Homo sapiens: one gene and its partner. The protein of the gene in region 1 interacts with the protein of each later gene in a pairwise test. Each region holds a gene or a part of one and is shown in the gene's direction. Other genes may lie near its edges.

Region 1 (8,976 bases):
GTTGATATGAAATGTCACTTATTTCATATCTTGAATGAAATATATATATACACACACATACATAAATACATGTGTATTTGAACCATTTAGGTTGGTAGAATTTTAATTTGTTCCATTGATGCTTTTCCCTGTTCGGCTATAACATCCATGATTGCGGAGAGTTTATCTGTTTTATTTACAGCTGTATCCACCCCTACCCCATGCAATGGTGCCTAGTATACAGTAGGTGGTCAACAATGTATCTGGTAAATAAGTCAGTAATATTGTGTTCCAATTCTTGTAGCTTTATGAATACTGGTGGGCAAGTTGTCTCTCATCAGTATTCTTTTTTAAAAAAGTCTTAGTTGTTGTAACACACAACTTAAATATTTTTTCCATAATTAGTGAACTTCTTTTTTTTTATTGAGACGGAGTCTTGCTCTGTCACCGAGGCTAGAGTGCAGTGGTGTGATCTCGACACTGCAACCTCTACCTCCCCGGTTCAAGTGATTCTCCTGCCTCAGACTCCTGAGTGGCTGGGATTACAGGCGCCCACCACCACTCTCTAATTTTTGTATTTTTGGTAGAGACAGGATTTTGCCATTTTGGCCAGGCTGGTCTCGAACTCCTGGCCTCAAGTGGTCCACCCACCTTGGCCTCCCAAAGTGCTGGGATTACAGGCGTGAGCCACCGCGCATGGCCCATATTAACTGTAAAATATTGTTACTTAGGCATAACTTGGCTGGGAATGTGTTAAGTTTATGAATTAAAGAAATGACATCCTGGTATATTGAGACATATTGTGCAAGAATATGTCATGTCTCTCTGTCTTTCGTCTTTGTATAGCTAAATAGGCATAATGAAGTGAACTTAATACATGAAAATCATTTTCTTTATGTAGCTACTATCCAGGTCTTATTTAGTTTATTTATAGGTATTTTCATTGTTGCTGTTGCAGGAGTCTTGTTTCTCATGGCTTCTTTCCCTTCCCTCAGCTCTGCCTCCTTTGGCTTCTGTCCCTCCCCAAGGAAGAACCCCACAGGAAGGAAGGAGAAGGCAATGGCTGCTTGGCCTCTGCCATTGGGAGCTCGGGTGAGCTCATTTTTCCCTCTCAAACCTCCCCCTTCCTCCTGTACTGCATGTGGGCCTCACTGCTCAGGACAGGGTTATTGAAATAGCAGAATGCTGGATATTTTTCACAAAGCCCCCTCTGTGTTCCTGACCTCTGTTCCTAGCTGCCACTTACTCAGCTGGATACCCTGGCCTGCTGTGTTCTTGGTGCTGTTCAAGGGTCAGAAAGGGAAAAAAGTTATATGCAAGCTGGTGCTGGTGCTTATAGGGCTTATGGGCTCTCAGGGATCATAAAAGAGGGCACATCTGCATGGTATACAGTCATAATTGCACCTGAATATGGTAATAAGAACAAGTGTGGTTAGGGACCCAGTTTATCCGTATTCCAAGCTGGAGTGAAGGGGAGGATCAGGGTGGTGGCCAGGAGAAGTAGGTAGTGTTTGCCCATCTCAGGGGTTGGGAAGGGATAACTGGAGAGGATTTGTTATAAGGGAGTCAGTGTGTCCAGAGTTTAAATCCCAGCTCTACCATTTAATAGCTACATTGTCTTGGCAAGAGGCTTGGCTTTCCTGAAACATTATTTTCTCATGGTCATAATAGGAATTACAGCATTACCTGTCTGCCATATAGGTGACATGAAGAACGTCACCTGGCTGATTTCATTTAATAGTAATAGCTACTTCATAGGTCTGTTGAAAGTTCAAATAAAATAATAAAAGTAAAAAATGCCTGGCATGGCTCCTGGAATGTTGAAGTTATTCAGTAAGTTGTAGGCATTCTTAGTATCATCCCAGCCAAGAGCCTGTGTATAGACTTTTAGAGGTGGACTGAAGGGGGCAGTGACTGATAGTGAGAAATGCTCTGCTGGAGTAGAAGAAATCGGATAAAAATTTTAGGACCAAGTGTCGGGAAGGAGGAGTTTGTGTGTTTGGCAGGGTGGTGGCCATGGGGGTGGAGGTCAGTCTGAGGAATTTTGATAAGGGAGTTCGCACAATCAAAACTTTCCTAGGAAAAAGTAGTGTCCGTGAGATGGAGGGAAGCATGGAGCTGGGATAGTAGGTGAGGATTCCAGGCTTCTCTGAAAAAGAAAATAAGGCATCAGAAGACTTGGCCCTAACTTCTTTTTTTTTTTTAAGGTTAAACTTACTTAGCCTTGTTGTCTGGAATACTGAAGACTTAACGGCATTTTCTCTTCTCATAAAAGTATGTATTAGGGGTCGTTGATTTATTAGGATCACTTGTTTATTTATTAGAGACCAGTTTAAAGAAAGCTTCGTGGAGGCAAGTATAAACTGTTGTGATTTCCATTTGTACTGCTTTCTTCAGTATTATCAAACTCAGTTATAAAAGGCAAAATAACTTTTAAAATGGGGGTATTGGACAAAGGGAGTTTCTGGAAGAGGGAAATGTTGAAAGGGGAAGCATTAAGAAGATTTTGGTTGATGACTGTTGTGGTTTGGTTGTCAGTAACCTACATTTTAATTTATGTAGCCAAAATAGTGTTAATTTTTAAATCAGCTTTTTCTGAGGCACAGTTTAATAAAATAACCCAATTTAAGCATAGAATTCATTGAGTTTTGACAAATTTATGCACCAACATAGCCACCACCTCAGTCAAGGTACAGAACTTTTGCATCACCCCAGCCAGCCAGTGTCCTCGTGCCACTTCTACTCCACGTCCCCCTCCCCAGCCAGACAGTGTCCTCGTGCTACTTCTACTCCACGTCCCCCACCCCAGCCAGCCAGTGTCCTCGTGCCACTTCTACTCCATGTCCCCCACCCCAGCCAGCCAGTGTCCTCGTGCCACTTCTACTCCACGTCCCCCTCCCCAGCCAGACAGTGTCCTCGTGCCACTTCTACTCCACGTCCCCCACCCCAGCCAGCCAGTGTCCTCGTGCCACTTCTACTCCACGTCCCCCTCCCCAGCCAGACAGTGTCCTCGTGCCACTTCTACTCCACGTCCCCCACCCCAGCCAGACAGTGTCCTCGTGCCACTTCTACCCCACGTCCCCCACCCCAGCCAGACAGTGTCCTCGTGCCACTTCTACTCCACGTCCCCCACCCCAGCCAGACAGTGTCCTCGTGCCACTTCTACTCCACGTCCCCCATCCCAGCCAGACAGTGTCCTCGTGCCACTTCTACTCCACGTCCCCCACCCCAGCCAGACAGTGTCCTCGTGCCACTTCTACTCCACGTCCCCCACCCCAGGAAGTCACTGGTTTGATTTCTGTCCCTACAGTATTGCCCTTTGTAGAACTTCATGTCAATGAAATCAAACAGTATATATTATGCCTGGCTTTTTTTGCTCAACGTAATGTTTTTCAGGTCTTTACATGATATTGTGTGTAGTAATAGTTTGTTCCTTTTTGTCTTAAGTAGTACACAGTTGAATATACCACCTTTTGTTCATTCACTTGTGACAGACATTTCAAGTTGTTTCCTGTTTTTAGCTATTATGAATAAAACTGCTCTGTACATTCATGTATGAGTCTTTTTGTGGATATATACTTTAATTTCTCTTGGGTAAATACCTAGGTCAAGTGTACATTTGACTTTGTAACAAACAGCTAAACTGTTTTCCAAAGTATATGTACCATTGTACATTCCCTCCTGCAGTATTTGAGAATTCCAGTCGCTCTACATGCTCTTCCATACTTGGTGTATCCATTTCCAAGAGCTGCTGTAATAAAGTGCCACAAATTGAGTGGCTCGAAACAATAGAAATTTATTGTCTCACAGTTTTGGAGGCCAGAAGTCTGAAATGAAGGCATTTGCAGGGCCTTGCTCTCTGAAACTGGTGGGGGAATCCTTCCTTTACTCTTCCTAGCTTCTAGCTTCTGGTGGTTTGCTGGCACTCTTTGGTGTTCCTTGGTTCATGGCTGCATCGCTCTAATCCTTACCTCCTTTGTCATCTGATGTTATCCTTATGTGTTCATGTCTTCAAATAGCCGTTTTTCTTATAAGGATACCAGTCATATTTGAGACAACCTGTTTTCAGATGAGGTCCTATTGCAAGGTACTAGAAGCTGGGACTTCAACATACCTTTTTTGGGGGACACAGTTCATAACACTAGGTATTATAAGCTTTTTAAATTTTAGTTATTTTCAAGGGTGGAAAATGCATCTTGTGGTTTTTTGGTTTGTTTTTTTTTTAACTTTTATTATGAAATAATTTCAGACTTTAAAAACTGCTGCAAGGCCGGGCACGGTGGCTCATGCCTGTAATCCCAGCACTTTGGGAGGCCACGGCAGGTGGATCACTTGAGGTCAGGAGTTCGAGACCAGCCTGGCCAACATGGTGAAACCCCGTCTCTACTAAAAATACAAAAAATGAACCGGGCGTGGTGGCACACACCTGTAATCCCAGCTACTCAGGAGGCTGAGGTGGGAGAATCGTTGGAACCCAGGAGGCGGAAGTTGCAGTGACGTGAGATCACTCCACTGCACTCCAGCCTGGGAGACAGACTGAGACAACAACAAATGCTGCAAAAATAAAACAATTTCTGGATAGTCTTCATCTAAATTAACATTTTGCCATTTTTCTCTTCCTGTATACACACACATGTTTGTGTATATATATTTCTGAACCATTTGAGAATAAATTACAGACATGCCCATTTCACTCTAAGTGTCCGTGTGTGCTTTCTATTATCATACCTAGCAAAAATACAGTTATCAAAATAAGGAAAACTTACATCGATACAATACTATTAGCCAAACTACAAACCTTACTTGGATTTTGCCACCTGTCCTACAACTGTCCTTTATCTGGTGCAGAATCCAATCCACATCACACATTGTATTTAGCTGTCGTATCTCCTTGGTCTCCTTTTATCTAGAAAAGTTCATTATTGATCTTCAATGACTTGGATACTTTTGAAGAGTACAGGCCAATTATTTCATAGAATGATCCTCAATGTGGGTTTGTTTGATGTTTGCTGATAATTTGATTCAGATTGTGATTAATTAAAATTTGAATGGCTGATACAGTCAGTGTTCAGAATTCAAAAATAAGCATTCACTTAAAATAAATCTTCTTCCTACTCTTGTCTCCAAGCTCCCTATTATCTCTTCTCATAAAAAGGTAATGATTCTCATTTCTTATGTAGCTTTCCAGAGATGACTACAAAAGCCCATAAAAGTATGTATTTTCCCAATTTTTAATCCAGTTGATAACAGATAATATTTACTCAGGAGTCTGCACCTGTTCTATTTTTAGCTATTTTGCATTTCACAATATATCTTGGAGACCTGTCCATATCAGTACATCGGGGCTTCTTTCTTTGATTATGTGGGCATATCATAGTTTAGTTAACCAGTCTGCCTTAAGGGACATTAGTCTAGACACTTGATAGCAGCTGATGACAGGCATTTTGTCACTTTTGTTGCTGCTTCTCTGAATTACTGATGAATCACTTGGAACTGTACAGTAGATGAGAAATGAGTAACTCAGATGTTGAGAAATAAAGTGTAATTGTCAACTAGATGTGTTTATAACCTGTAAATGGAATGCAATTACGAAGTACAGTAATAGACTTGGGACATATCAATGCAACATTAGAGCTGTTTTCCTTTTTTCATCTTTCTCCGTAGTTTCATCTTTCCCATATTGGCCAGTGATGGTAGTATGAATTGTCTAGGTGTTACTTTTATTTGCCTTTAAATTTAATATTTTTTTGAATATAAATATTGGGCATATAGACTAATCATATCTACTATCCCTTTTTAAAAATTTAAAGGCAATGAGAGAGAATTCCAAGTTTCCAACCCTCAGAAACAACTATGATGTACATTCTTCCAGCCTTTTAAAATACCTGTCTACACCCTTTGCCCATTTTTATATTGAGTTATTTACATATAAAAGAGGTCTTTCCTATAAAGTGGATAGTATTCCTTTGCTATACGTTGCCAGTATTCTGTCATGTTTCTTTTAAATTTGTTTATAATATATTTTGCTACAAAAAAGTTTTGAAGTTTTATGCAGTTAAATTTCCTTTCTCTTTACTTGGCTTTGGGATCATGCTATGAAAAGGAGCCTGGCATGGTGGCTCACGCCTGTAATCCCAACACTTTGGGAGGCCGAGGTGGGTGGATCACGAAGTCAAGAGATTGAGACCATCCTGGCCAATACGGTGAAACTCCGTCTCTACTAAAAATACAAAATTACAAAATACAAAAATACAAAAATTAGCTGGGCATGGTGGCACGTGCCTGTAGTCCCAGCTACTGGGGAGGCTGAGGCAGGAGAATCGGTTGAACCCGGGAGGTGAAGGTTGCCGTGAGCCAAGATTGTGCCACTGCACTCTAGCCCGGCAACAGAGTGAGACTCCATCTCCAAAAAAGAAAAAAGAAAAAAAAAAGAAAAGTTTTCTGTACCCCAAGATAATATAAATCTTTTTCTGTGTTTTCTATTAGTTTTATAATTTTAAATTTACATCCTTGTGCTATCTGGAATGTATTGTCTGTGATGTGAAGTAGGGATCTAACTTCATTTAACATGATGTGGTGAAGCATTTCATCCATCCATCCACTCATTAAACATATTTAGCGCTTCTCTGCCATGTGGTGTGCCGTGTTCTGGATACTGGGAGTGTTGCAGTGAGTAAGAGAGGCAAGATCTCCTTCTCTGAGCTCTTATTTTCCACAGGGGATGCAGACAATAAAGAGGAAATGTGGTTGAGGATAGTGTTAGGTGCTGTGATGAGGACGCAGCAGGGGAACATGGTAGAGTGTCACTCAGGGCTGTTTTAGCTCAGCAGAGGAGTGGCCCCTCTCAGGAGATGGCATTGGAGCTGATGTTATCTACTGAAATAATCTGCTCACTCTCCGTGGACTTGAAATGGAACCTTTAAAATATGCCAAATTGTCACATATATATGAAATATATATGAGAGTTTATATTATAATATAGTTTACATATATTTATATATGAGTTTATTTTTAAAATTTATATATATGTTTATTTTTCTGGATTCTATTCCATTGTTCTATTTCTGTTGTAGTACCACACTATTGTATTTGTTGTCTCAGAATTCATTTTGCTTTTTTTTTTTTTTTTTTTTTTGAGAGACAGAGTCTTGCTCTGTCTCCCAGGCTGGAGTGCAATGGCATGATTTTGGCTCACTGCAACCTCTGCCTGCCGGGTTCAAGGCATTCTCTTGCCTCAGCCTCCTCAGTAGCTGGGACTACAGGCACGTGCCACCACGCCTGGCTAACTTTTTGTATTTTTAGTAGAGACGGGGTTTCACCATGCTGGCAGGCTGGTCTCGAACTCCTGACCTCGTGATCTGCCTGCCTCAGCTTCCCAAAGTGCTGGGATTACAGGAGTGAGCCACTGCGCCCGGCCCATTTTGGTATTTCGTAAAGCAACTCTTCCCTCATTTTTCGTTTCAAAAGTTTCGTTACTGTTCTCGTATATTTATCCTTAATAGTCGAATTTTATTATGAAGTTCCAACAGTAATAGTAAAAAAGTAAAATTATGCAGTTCTGATTTGAATTTCAAAGTGTGTAAGTCAGTTTGAGGAAGATTGCCATCTTTACGATGTTTATTCTTCATATTAAGTAAAAAAATGATACTTTATTCTATTCAGATCTTTCATTATGGCCTTTAACTCTTTACAGACCAATCATGAAGATCTTGCATATTTCTCTTAAATGTATTCTTAGGTGTTTCATTTTCTGTTGCTGTTGTAATTGGAGTTTAAATATGATTGTGATTTTGTAAAGAAAAAATGTGGATTGCTCAGTATCATATCTGAAGACACTTTGCTGCTGCAGTGCCTAAAACTTCATCACTATCATATTTTACTTATAAATTATGCTTTCATCATTTATAATGTCCTTATTCTATTTGATATGCAGTTTTTTCAAACAATAACTGTATCAAAAAGCCTTTGTTTTTAGGTTTAAGAAAACCTCTGTATGAGTAAGATAAACCCATGAAGCTCCTTAAACACTATGAGGTATCCTGTACTGAATGTAGTGCTAGGGGGAAAATGACTCATACTAAATGGAAAGGAGGAAAGGAATAAAACATCTTAAGGAATTGATGACAAATGTATATTACTAAGTTCCATGTTCACTTTCTTTTTTTTTTTCTTTTTTCTTTTTTTTGGAGACAAGGCCTGGCTGAATTGCCCAGACTGGACTACAGTGGTGTGATCTCAGCCCACTGCAACCTCTGCCTCCTGAGCTCAAGCCATGTTCCCACCTCAGCCTCCCGAATAGCTGGGACCACAGGTGCACACTACCACGCCCAGCCAATTTTTGTCTTTTTTGTAGAGACAAGGTTTCGTCATGTTACCCAGGCTGGTCTCGAACCCCTGAGCTCAAGCCATCCGCCACCTGCCTTGGCCTCCCAAAGTGCTGGTATTACAGGCGTGAGCCACCATGTCTGGCCATGTTCACCTTTTAAGAAGCCTTTTGTAGTTACCTAAATCAGCACTTTACCAGCCCACAGCTGGCACGGGGATCTGCAGTGCATTTCACAATAGAAGCTCTGCGCATGCTGAGCACAGAGCCAGGACTTAAGGTGGTGAGGGTTTAGGGAAGCAAGGAAGACCAGCACATAGCAACCTGGATTTGGACTTTTATTTTGCCTTCTGTATTCAGCTAACAAGGTAATTTGTTGAAAAAAGTGGATGATTTTTGGAAGGGGAATCTTGCATTTCTGATTTGATACCTTCTTTCACCAAAAAGAGGCTTATTTTTGTTTTCACATATATTCTCCCTTATCTGATAACGTTATTCTCACTGCTTTCTTTACATTTGCATTTGCCTGCTATATCCTGTGTCTGCCCTCCTCTTTTGAAATTTTAAACTTTTTGGTTTCTGTTTTACGTATATCTTTTGTAGGTACCATACAGCTGGATTTTAAATCAATTTTAGAGTTTTTGTCTTTATTTATTTATTTTTTTTTGAGACAG
Region 2 (9,621 bases), on another chromosome or scaffold:
CTGTTAATCACTTGCAGGACCTGTGGGATTTCAAAGGGGACAAGAAAATGGTTGAGATTATGGAGGGTAGGCTAGAGAATACCTCACCAAAAGATCCTCTTCTCAGTAATTAGAGAAGACAGATTGTTGGCTTAATGAGACCCTTGAGGTCTAAAACGTATCTTGGGAGAGAAATGGAGGATGAGAAATACCCTTGTTTCCATTTTACCTTCCATATGGGACTGAGGTTAAAAAAAATATATACCATCACGGGAATAAGGAGAACCCAAAGTCTAGACCAGATTAAATGAAATAATGTATAAAGTCCAGTGCCAATTGGCTGGTCAATATTTCACAAATATTCACTGCCTTTCTCCTCTCCTGTTTTTCCCAGACAGAAACTAGTTCGCTTTCTCACAAACCCGTGTTGTCTTCTTCCTGGACACACTGCTAGCCCACCATTCTTGCATCCAGGTGGACTGCGAGACTGAGTTCTGGCCAGCTCATGGAATGTGTTAGGAAGAGTTAGGAACGCCCCTTCTGGATCTGGCCCCAAATCTTCCCTTGAGATTCTCTAGGCTCTCTTCTCCCTCATCTGCAGCCAGGTTCAGAGGATTTTCAGAGGATTCACTGGAGGACTCAGTCCCCTAGAAAAGGCAGAGCTTCTAGATGCACCCATGAAGTCTTTGAGAAACAGAGTGCCCTCTCCCGCTCTCCCAGTGACCCACATTGAACCGTGATACTGGATGAGTAAGTCACCGAGATTTGGGGATTGCTTGTTATAGCACTTAGCCTACCCTGAATAATTCAGCCCTATCTTTGGAGAAATTTTTTTTACCTCCTGGGTCTCAGTTTCTTCATCTGAAAATGAGGTCAAAGCAGGACCTGGGATATTGAAAAAGAAAAAAGAAAACGAGGAATTTAGAATAGGGGCACTCTTGGTTGCCATGAGCTATAACACTGCATTTATAAATCCTATGGTTATTCTTTCCAAATGGTTTAAAACTCTACAAGGACTAAATGTAGAATTTCTCGACTATAATAAAGACTAAATTCCCAATTTATACATGGGTTGTGTTTCAAAAGTTCAGGTACAAGTTCCTTGTTGGAGCATTGTTTCTGTGAAAACATATATATAGATAGATAGATAGATAGATATTTTTTGAGATGGAGTTTCACTCTTGTTGCCCAGGCTGGAGTGCAATGGTGCAATTTTGGCTCACTGCAACTTCGGCCTCCTGGGTTCAAGTGATTCTCCTGCCTTAGCCTCCCGAATAGCTGGGATTACAGTGATGTGCCACCATGACCAGCTAATTCTGTATTTTTAGTAGAAATGGGGTTTCACCATGTTGGTCAGGCTGGTCTCAAACTCCTGACCTCACATCATCCACCTGCCTTGGCCTCCCAAAGTGCTAGGATTACAGGTGTGAGCTACTGCACCTGGCCAGATTCAATTTTTAAACATATACATAGGTTCCTGCTTCATCCTCAGTTCTGAGGCCCCCTAAGCTCTACCTTGGAAGCAGTGAGTGAGATAGGCAAGCAGCAGCTGAGCAAAGGCTCTGAGGTGTGATCAGAGAGGGACAGGAGGGTAGGATGGGCTGCACCATGGGCCAGGATGTCAGCTGTACAAGCTTCCTGTGGGAGGAAGTGGAAGCCATGATACATGCAAGTCATTGCTAAATTGGATATTTCCAATTATAGGTCTACCTCTTCTTTTTAACTGTGCTTGGGTACACGTTCTGTGCAGGGCAGAGATAGATTTACCATGAAGCTAATAAACCTCAGGCTTCGAGGTCCTCACTCCCATGTAGGACCTTTCCAAGGCCCTTGCAATGTGTTTACCAGGTCATTTGTTTTTGTAAAATTGGAAAAAGTGAGATATTTTAACTGCAGTTGGTTAAGGCTGCTGTCTATTTCTGCTCTGACTTCCCCTCCTTCACATTTTCCCTTGTGTTAGATGGCACTGAAGTGGCCACAGGCATTTTTGGGAAATAAAAGCTACAGGGAAGTTGAGTTGGGAATAGACTCCATTTGGTATCTATTCATATGGCATACCGACACTTCCATGCATAGCTACCACCTGCAACCCAGACACAGGAATACCTTCCAGAAGTACTCTTATTCATCCAGCAAGCTGACTTACCTGCTATTGTGACCTGTAGGTAGAAGAGCGGCTGGGCGCGGTGGCTCACGCCTGTAATCCCAGCACTTTGGGAGGCGGAGGCGGGCAGATCATGAGGTCAGGAGATCGAGACCGTCCTGGCTAACACAGTGAAACCCCGTCTCTACTAAAAATACAAAAAATTAGCCGGGCGTGGTGGCGGGCGCCTGTAGTCCCAGCTACTCGGGAGGCTGAGGCAGGAGAATGGCGTGAACCCGGGAGGCGGAGCTGGCAGTAAGCCGAGATCGCGCCACTGCACTCTAGCCTGGGCGACAGAGCAAGACTGTCTCAGAAAAAAAAAAAAAAAAAAAAAAAAAAAGGGCTTAGATCAAACCAGGATATAAATGTGTCCAATAGCACCTGGCACCCGAAGTTATGTGGGCCTAAAAGTTTGAAAATATATGAAGTCAGAAGCTAGTCTGAAGAAAATTATTCCAGTCATAAGCAGAAGATTCTGTCTCTTATTAAACACCAGTCAAAACAAGTTTTGTCCTGTCGGCAATAACACAGTAACTCAATAGCACAGCATATATAATTATAAATGCACCATGCATTCTTTTATTTCTTGATGGGAATTGTACAATACACAATTTATCAGAATCCCTATGTTTAAATTCCTTTGCTGACTTGACACAAATTACTGCTATCAATGCAGATGATAAAAATTTTATAATGCATCATTCATAATAAGGTTTTCAACGACAAATTGGCTAATGAATACAGTCCATTTGAAGAGTAGATCTAAGATTATTTCTTGCACAAGAAAATTTGAAATGCTCTGAAATCTTCCAGCTAATAAATGAAAGAAATTTAATCAAAGTTCTCCCCCAATTTGATAACAAACCAAAAAATTTACATGACATTGCCAATAACAACTTGTGAACTTGAAAGAAACTTTTATAACTGCCACAAATAATAAAAGACAAATTTGATCCACCAGGCTAAGAAAAGACTGAATTACCTTCCTGGTCTCTCTCTAAAATGATATTATCAAGTGATTGTCATGTGAAGAAGCAATCAAAGAGTATGCAGCCAAAAATGTAAGAAAAAAAGTAATATTCAAGTGTGACTAGCATTTAATCAATCAAACTATTATAGAATTTTTTTTTTTTTTTTGAGACGGAGTCTTGCTGTCGCCCAGGCTAGAGTGCAGTGGCACGATCTCGGCTCACTGCAGGCTCCGCCCCCTGGGGTTCACGCCATTCTCTTGCCTCAGCCTCCCGAGTAGCTGGGACTACAGGCGACCGCCACCTCGCCCGGCTAATTTTTTGTATTTTTAGTAGAGAGGGGTTTCACCGTGTTAGCCAGGATGGTCTCGATCTCCTGACCTCGTGATCCGCCCGCCTCGGCCTCCCAAAGTGCTGGGATTACAGGTGTGAGCCACCACACCAAGCCTATAGAAAATTTGTTGTGATGCTTTTAGTAGTCAGCTTTTCAAAATTTGTAATTTGTTGTGATTTCTCATTATAAATAAATATTCACTTTTATACCTGTCTTTATATTTGTAAGTTGGTGGGAGTTTTTTCCTTAAAGAGGGCGCCCCTTCTTCCCCTTTCCCTTGAAATTATATATGCATCTCACTCCATAAAACCTGGCTGACCAAAGTGCAGAGCGAGCTCTTAGGTGCTGCTACAGCTATTTAAGGTGCTGGGGCTGGTATTGTCAAGTATTGTCAAGACACCTGTGCTGTTCAGGCTCTGAAAAGTGGTCATAGGTTAGAAAAGTTACCAGAGTGGATCAAATTAAAACACCTCTTTATGAGGTCACCTGTCAGGCATTTTAGATTACCAGTAATGTTACGAGGGCCTATCTTTGCTTCTGGAGGAACCCCAGGGTCAGGAGTTCTTGCCATTCACTGTCCTGGAAGCAAGGTGATTCCAGCTCCTTGAAAATTGTTAATTATTTGTGCTAGCTTCATCTAGTGACAAAAAGAGGTAAGTTCAGCTCAGCTCACCAAAATTTGTCAAAACGGTGCAGCTTTTTCTCCTTTTCTGTAATTGTGCAGAATACTGTGGTTTACTAAATTCCAGAGTGACTTTTATTAACTTGTGTCCTCAAATAAGTGAAACTAGAGAAACAGCAGGCCAGATAGAGATGAAAATATAAAGGCTGGGCGTGGTGGCTCTCGCCTGTAATCCCAACACTTTGGGAGGCCGAGGTGGGCAGATCACGAGGTCAGGAGTTCGAGACCAGCCTGGCCAACATAGTGAAACCCCGTCTCTACTAAAAAATACAAAAACTTAGCCAGGAATGGTGGCGGGTGCCTGTAATTCCAGCTACTTGGGAGGCTGAGGCAGGAGAATCACTTGAACCTGGGAGGCAAAGGTTGCAGTGAGCCGAGATCATGTCATTGCACTCCAGCCCAGGCAATAGTGTGAGACTCTATCTCAAAAAAAGGAGAAAAGAAAAAGAAAATATAAAGTAAAAACTGAGAGGAAAACAGCGCTTATTTTAACTCCTGATGGTACTGTTTGCAGGAGTCATGCTCCAGTGCCTTATAAGAAGTTTACCGAACTGCCAGCCTCATGGAGCAGGATACCCCTTTAAGATGGGTGGGCCAGGTGCAGGGGTGGGGTTGGGGGTCCTGCACAACTCTGCTGATGCTTGGTTGACCCTGACGGATATTCTGGGCCATCCTGGCTTTTGACTGGAACCTGCTACCTAGGTTGACCCTTCAGTTCCTCTCCTTATCAGCTCTGTTATTTCCAATCTCTGAGTCACATCTTGCCCAACTCCATTCCACTATGTCTGCTTCAGTTGGCATCCTTTCTCCCTTCCATTTAAAGTTTCCCCAAACAGATCTGGCCTTATTGTATTCTCTATTGAGTTTTCATTCAACAACATTTGTTGAGCATCTTTGTGCCAGGCCCATGTTAAGTATAGGAGACTCAAGGCTGAGAATAACACACCGTTGCAAGCACATCCTCTGGATCCAAACTCCCTGGGTTCGAATCCTAGTACCATCATTTCTAACTGTGGGATCTTGGACAAGTTACTTTGTTTTACTCCAGTGTCCTCATCTATATAAAAAGAATAATAATACGGTCATTTTCTCACGGGGTGAGAGGATTGACTAAGGAGCTTACAAGGGTGTCTGGTGCCTGGTAAGCACTCTTTAAGTGCTGGCTCTTAAGGCACGGTCCTTGCCTCTCAAGGAGCTCATGGTCTACAGTTGCCCCTGGGGGACAGGGCTGAGTCGGCTGGCTTCGCAAGTGACCTGCACCTCCTGGCTACCCTTTCCTGAACCGGGTGGAAGTTTTTGAGTCACAGATTCAATGTATGACCCCAGACAAGTAAGTTCTCTCGGTCTCACTTTTTGCATTTATAAAGAAAGGAAATTGGACTAAAATTGATTTCCAAGATCCCAACAAACTAGTATACTTGTTCTGGGTCAAGTAGCCCAAGTTTCAAACTATGTCAGCTTGGCCAAGACACTTAGCCCTCAGAGTTTGTTTCATCCCTGTAAAACGTGGATGATATTGCTAATCCCCTCCCAGTGTTGTGATGAGGGTTCAATAATACAAGGCAAGCCCCAGGCGCTCGCCGGCTCCAGGTATACAGCGAGAGGAAATCAGGACAGCTTTTCTGATTCACCGCAGAATTCTAGCCACCCGCCCTAGCCGTTCGACGCACGCGCGCTGGCACCGCCACCGCCCACGCCGACAGCAGGTTCCCGGCTTCCGGTTCCGCCACGGCCCAGAGGCTGTGTTGAGGCTAATGGCGGTGCCCACGGAACTGGATGGAGGGAGTGTTAAGGAGACCGCAGCGGAAGAGGAATCGCGAGTTCTGGCACCTGGCGCCGCCCCGTTCGGAAATTTTCCTCATTATTCTCGCTTCCACCCTCCGGAGCAACGGCTCCGCCTCCTGCCCCCGGAGCTGCTTCGACAGCTCTTTCCTGAGAGTCCCGAGAACGGGCCGATTCTGGGGCTCGACGTGGGGTGTAACTCCGGGGTGAGTGACAGGGGAGGGATTGGAGCATCCGGAGCCAAGTGGTTGGCTGCCTACACATCCACTGTGGTTCTGGCCTGGGCTAACACCCATCGAAACTTTCCCAAAACGAGTATAAAGCGTGGCTTTGACTGAGCCAGTGCCGCTGCTGCCTGCCCGCCAGGGTTCCACCATCTGTCTTAGGAATCTCTCTTGGAGAGGAGTCCTTGTCGACTACGTTCCCACTTTTCTTTCAGGGCCAGACCCCAGGTGGGAACGGTCCTTGTATCTAGGGTGGCCTCTGTCCAGCGTGCCTGGCGCTTTGGCTGGGGAGAGGGGGCTTCCAGAGACACACGTTTGGGAACATGGGGTTAGGTTTGGTTTACTGGGAGAGAAGAGCCAAGGGTGACAGAATCATGCCTGATATTGAGACTCATGTGTGCTATACAGTGCAGGACAGACCCTGGGACCTGCATGTTTATTTCAAAAAAAGTGAGTAGGCCGGGCGCGCTGGCTCACGCCTGTAATCCCAGCACTTTCGGAGGCCGAGGCGGGTGGATCACAAGGTCACGAGATCGAGACCATCCTGGCTAACACGGTGAAACCCCGTCTCTACTAAAAATACAAAAAATTAGCCGGTCGTGGTGGCGGGCGCCTGTAGTCCAGCTACTCCGGAGGCTGAGGCAGGAGAATGGCGTGAACCCGGGAGGCGGAGCTTGCAGTGAGCCGAGCTAGTGCCACTGCACTCCAGCCTGGGCGACAGAGCGAGACTCCGTCTCAAAAACAAAACAAAACAGTGAGTTGACAGAGTACAGTGGAGAGGATCGAGAAGCAAATAAAGCATTTTGCCCAAGGGAATGGAGAAGGGCGGCACTGCCACTCTTCTTGCTGCAAACTATTCTTAGGCATATGATTATAATCAAACCACATGCAAAATAAGGAAATGTCTCTCCCACACCTATTTGTAGCCACTGGGATATTCTACACTAGCAGGCAGTCTGAACTTACCACGGCAAATGCTTCAAAAGTTAGTACCCTCTCTGCGCTCCCTCCATCACTCCAGTCCAGCATCTGGAGGGCGGGGGACAATTCTGTTACGTTGCTGTCCTTTTACAGAAGAGACTTTGGGGGACGACTTCAGACCTTGTGGGACTCAGATGATAGTAGGAAGGGGACATTTGGATACAGTCTCAAAGACTGGAATGAGGAGATGGGTTGATGTCCTGTGTCCCCTGCAAAATTTCTCCGCTGTGATGATACGGGAAGTCAGAGGGTAAAAACAATGGAAAAGAGAGACTGAGGTTAAGGCTTGGGATTTCACGAAAGGCATTAGGAAACCACCAGAGATTTTAAAGTTGAGAGTAGTATACACATGAGAGGTAAAGACATAGTTGGCAGCTAACTAGGGTAGTGGTTCCCAAACCTGGCTGTACGTTTATGGAGCTTTCTGTTTTGCAGTTTTTAAAAAATGCTTTTTCTTGTGGATCTTTGTAGTCAGGAAAGGGAAAAAAAATGCTTGCGCTTGATAAAACAAAAAAATTCAAACTACAAAGGGGTATATACTAAAAAGTAAGTCTCTACTCCCAACCCTAAATCCTCCTTTTCCCCCACACAGTGGCACTACTGTTTATAATTTCTTAGGTATCAGTCTTGTGTGTATACCAGCATTTACGTACATATAAGTACCCCCCTTTTAGTTTTACAAATGGTAACACACTATTAGTAGCTTTTAATTCTGAGATTATTTATATCACCACATTCTTTTTTTAGCAGCTTCCTAATGTTTCATTGGATAGATGTACCATAATTTATGGGTGCTTTTTTTTTTCAATTTTAAAAACTCCTTTCCCAGCCTGGGCAACATGGCAAAACCCCATCTCTAAAAAAAATTAGCCAGGTGTGGTGGTGGGCATCTGTAGTCCCAGCTACTTAGAGAGCTGAGGGAGGAGGATCGCTTGAACCCAGGAGGTCGAGGCTGCAGTGAGCCTTGATTGTGCCACATACCCCAGCCTGGGTGACGAAGTGAGACCCTGTCTCAAATAAAACAACAACAAAAAACCCAAAAAACTGCTGGGTGCAGTGGCTGACGCTGTAATCCCAGCATTTTCAGAGACTGACGCTGGTGGATTGCTTGAGCTCGGGAGTTTGAGATCAGCCTGGGCAACATGGCAAAATCTCATCCCTACCAAAAATACAAAAATTAGCTGGGCATGGTGGTGTGCACCTGTGGTTCCAGCTACTCATAAGGCTGAAGTAGGAGGATCTCTGGAGCCTGGGAAGTCAAGGTTGCAGTGATCACACCACTGTACTCCAGCCTGGGAAACAGAGTAAGATCCTGTCTCAAAAATAAATAAATAAATAAATAATAAACATTTTCAGCACCCCACAACTTCCCCTATATGCCTTTTCCTGTTCATAAACCTCTATCTCTACCCAGAGGTAACAACTAGCCTTCTGTTGTTTCCTTGCTTTTCTTTATAGTGTACTGTTTTTCTTCCCTGAATGATGTACTTTAATTTCACCCATTTTTGAGCTTCATGTAAATGGATGCTTTTCATATATTTTCTGTTATGGCTTGCTTTTTTTCTCAACATTATGTATTTGTGAGAATCATCCATGTTGTGCACCAAGCTGGGTGCCTTCATTTTTTAACTGCTATTTAGTATTCTATCTTCATGATTATACCACATTTATTTGTCCATGCCACTATCACTGGACATCTGGGTGGTTTCCATTGTGCATTTTCTTCACCTGCAGAAAAGGCATAAATAAATATTTTCCTCACATGCTTGTTACACCAAGCAAACAAAGTAGTAAACAGAAAAATGCCTTGAAAATACTATGTGGAAAAACACAAATTTGAGTTAGTTATAATGGTTATAGAAATCAAAGAGGCCAGGTGCAGTGGCTCATTCCTATAGTCCCAGCACTTTGGGAGGCCGAGGCAGGTGGATCACTTGAGGTCAGTTAAAGACCAGCCTGGCCAACATGGTGAAACCCTGTCTCTAATAAAAATACAAAAATTAGCTGAGTGTGGTGATGCATGCCTGTAATCCCAGCTACTTAGGAGGCTGAGGCAGGAGAATCGCTTGAACCTGGGAGGCAGAGGTTGCTGAGATCACGCCATTGCACTCCAGCCTGGCCGACAGAACCAGACTTTGTCTCAAAAAAAAAAAGAATTCAAAGTTAGAGAAAGGAGATGGTGACTTAAGAGTAAAAAAGGTGCTAATGTGGTAAAAATCACAAATCATTGGACTTGTCTAGAAGGTTGTTAGCAGTGACTTTTAGCAATGATGGTTATAGAAGCAGAATGTCTCAGAAGGAGGTGGTGAATCCTAAGACAGTAAAATTGAAGCTTTAGTGAAGGCTGAATGAGGACTTTGGAATCCAGACTTCCCCCACCGCGGGTCTGAGAAGCAGGTTTTTGTAAGATTGTGCTTGCTGTATTCCTCACTTTCCTGGTAAGAGACACTGGTTATGCCTCTGGACCCCTTTCTTCCGCCCTGGGGTCTTGAGATACCCAGAAAAAGAGTGAGTTTATCAGCATATTA

Evidence for each region.
Region 2: the proteins of ZFP2 (region 1) and BCDIN3D interact in binary tests that used the Homo sapiens proteins (3 or more experiments, as listed by UniProt).

What each region holds. Positions count from the first base shown.
Region 1 is NC_000005.10:178,897,605-178,906,580, forward strand, and holds part of ZFP2 (zinc finger protein ZFP2), read left to right. Parts: intron 1-8,976. UniProt on the Homo sapiens protein: Probable transcription factor involved in neuronal differentiation and/or phenotypic maintenance.
Region 2 is NC_000012.12:49,839,327-49,848,947, reverse strand, and holds the start of BCDIN3D (RNA 5'-monophosphate methyltransferase), read left to right. Parts: upstream 1-5,841; 5' UTR 5,842-5,860; coding exon 5,861-6,094; intron 6,095-7,793; exon of another isoform or gene 7,794-9,621. UniProt on the Homo sapiens protein: O-methyltransferase that specifically monomethylates 5'-monophosphate of cytoplasmic histidyl tRNA (tRNA(His)), acting as a capping enzyme by protecting tRNA(His) from cleavage by DICER1.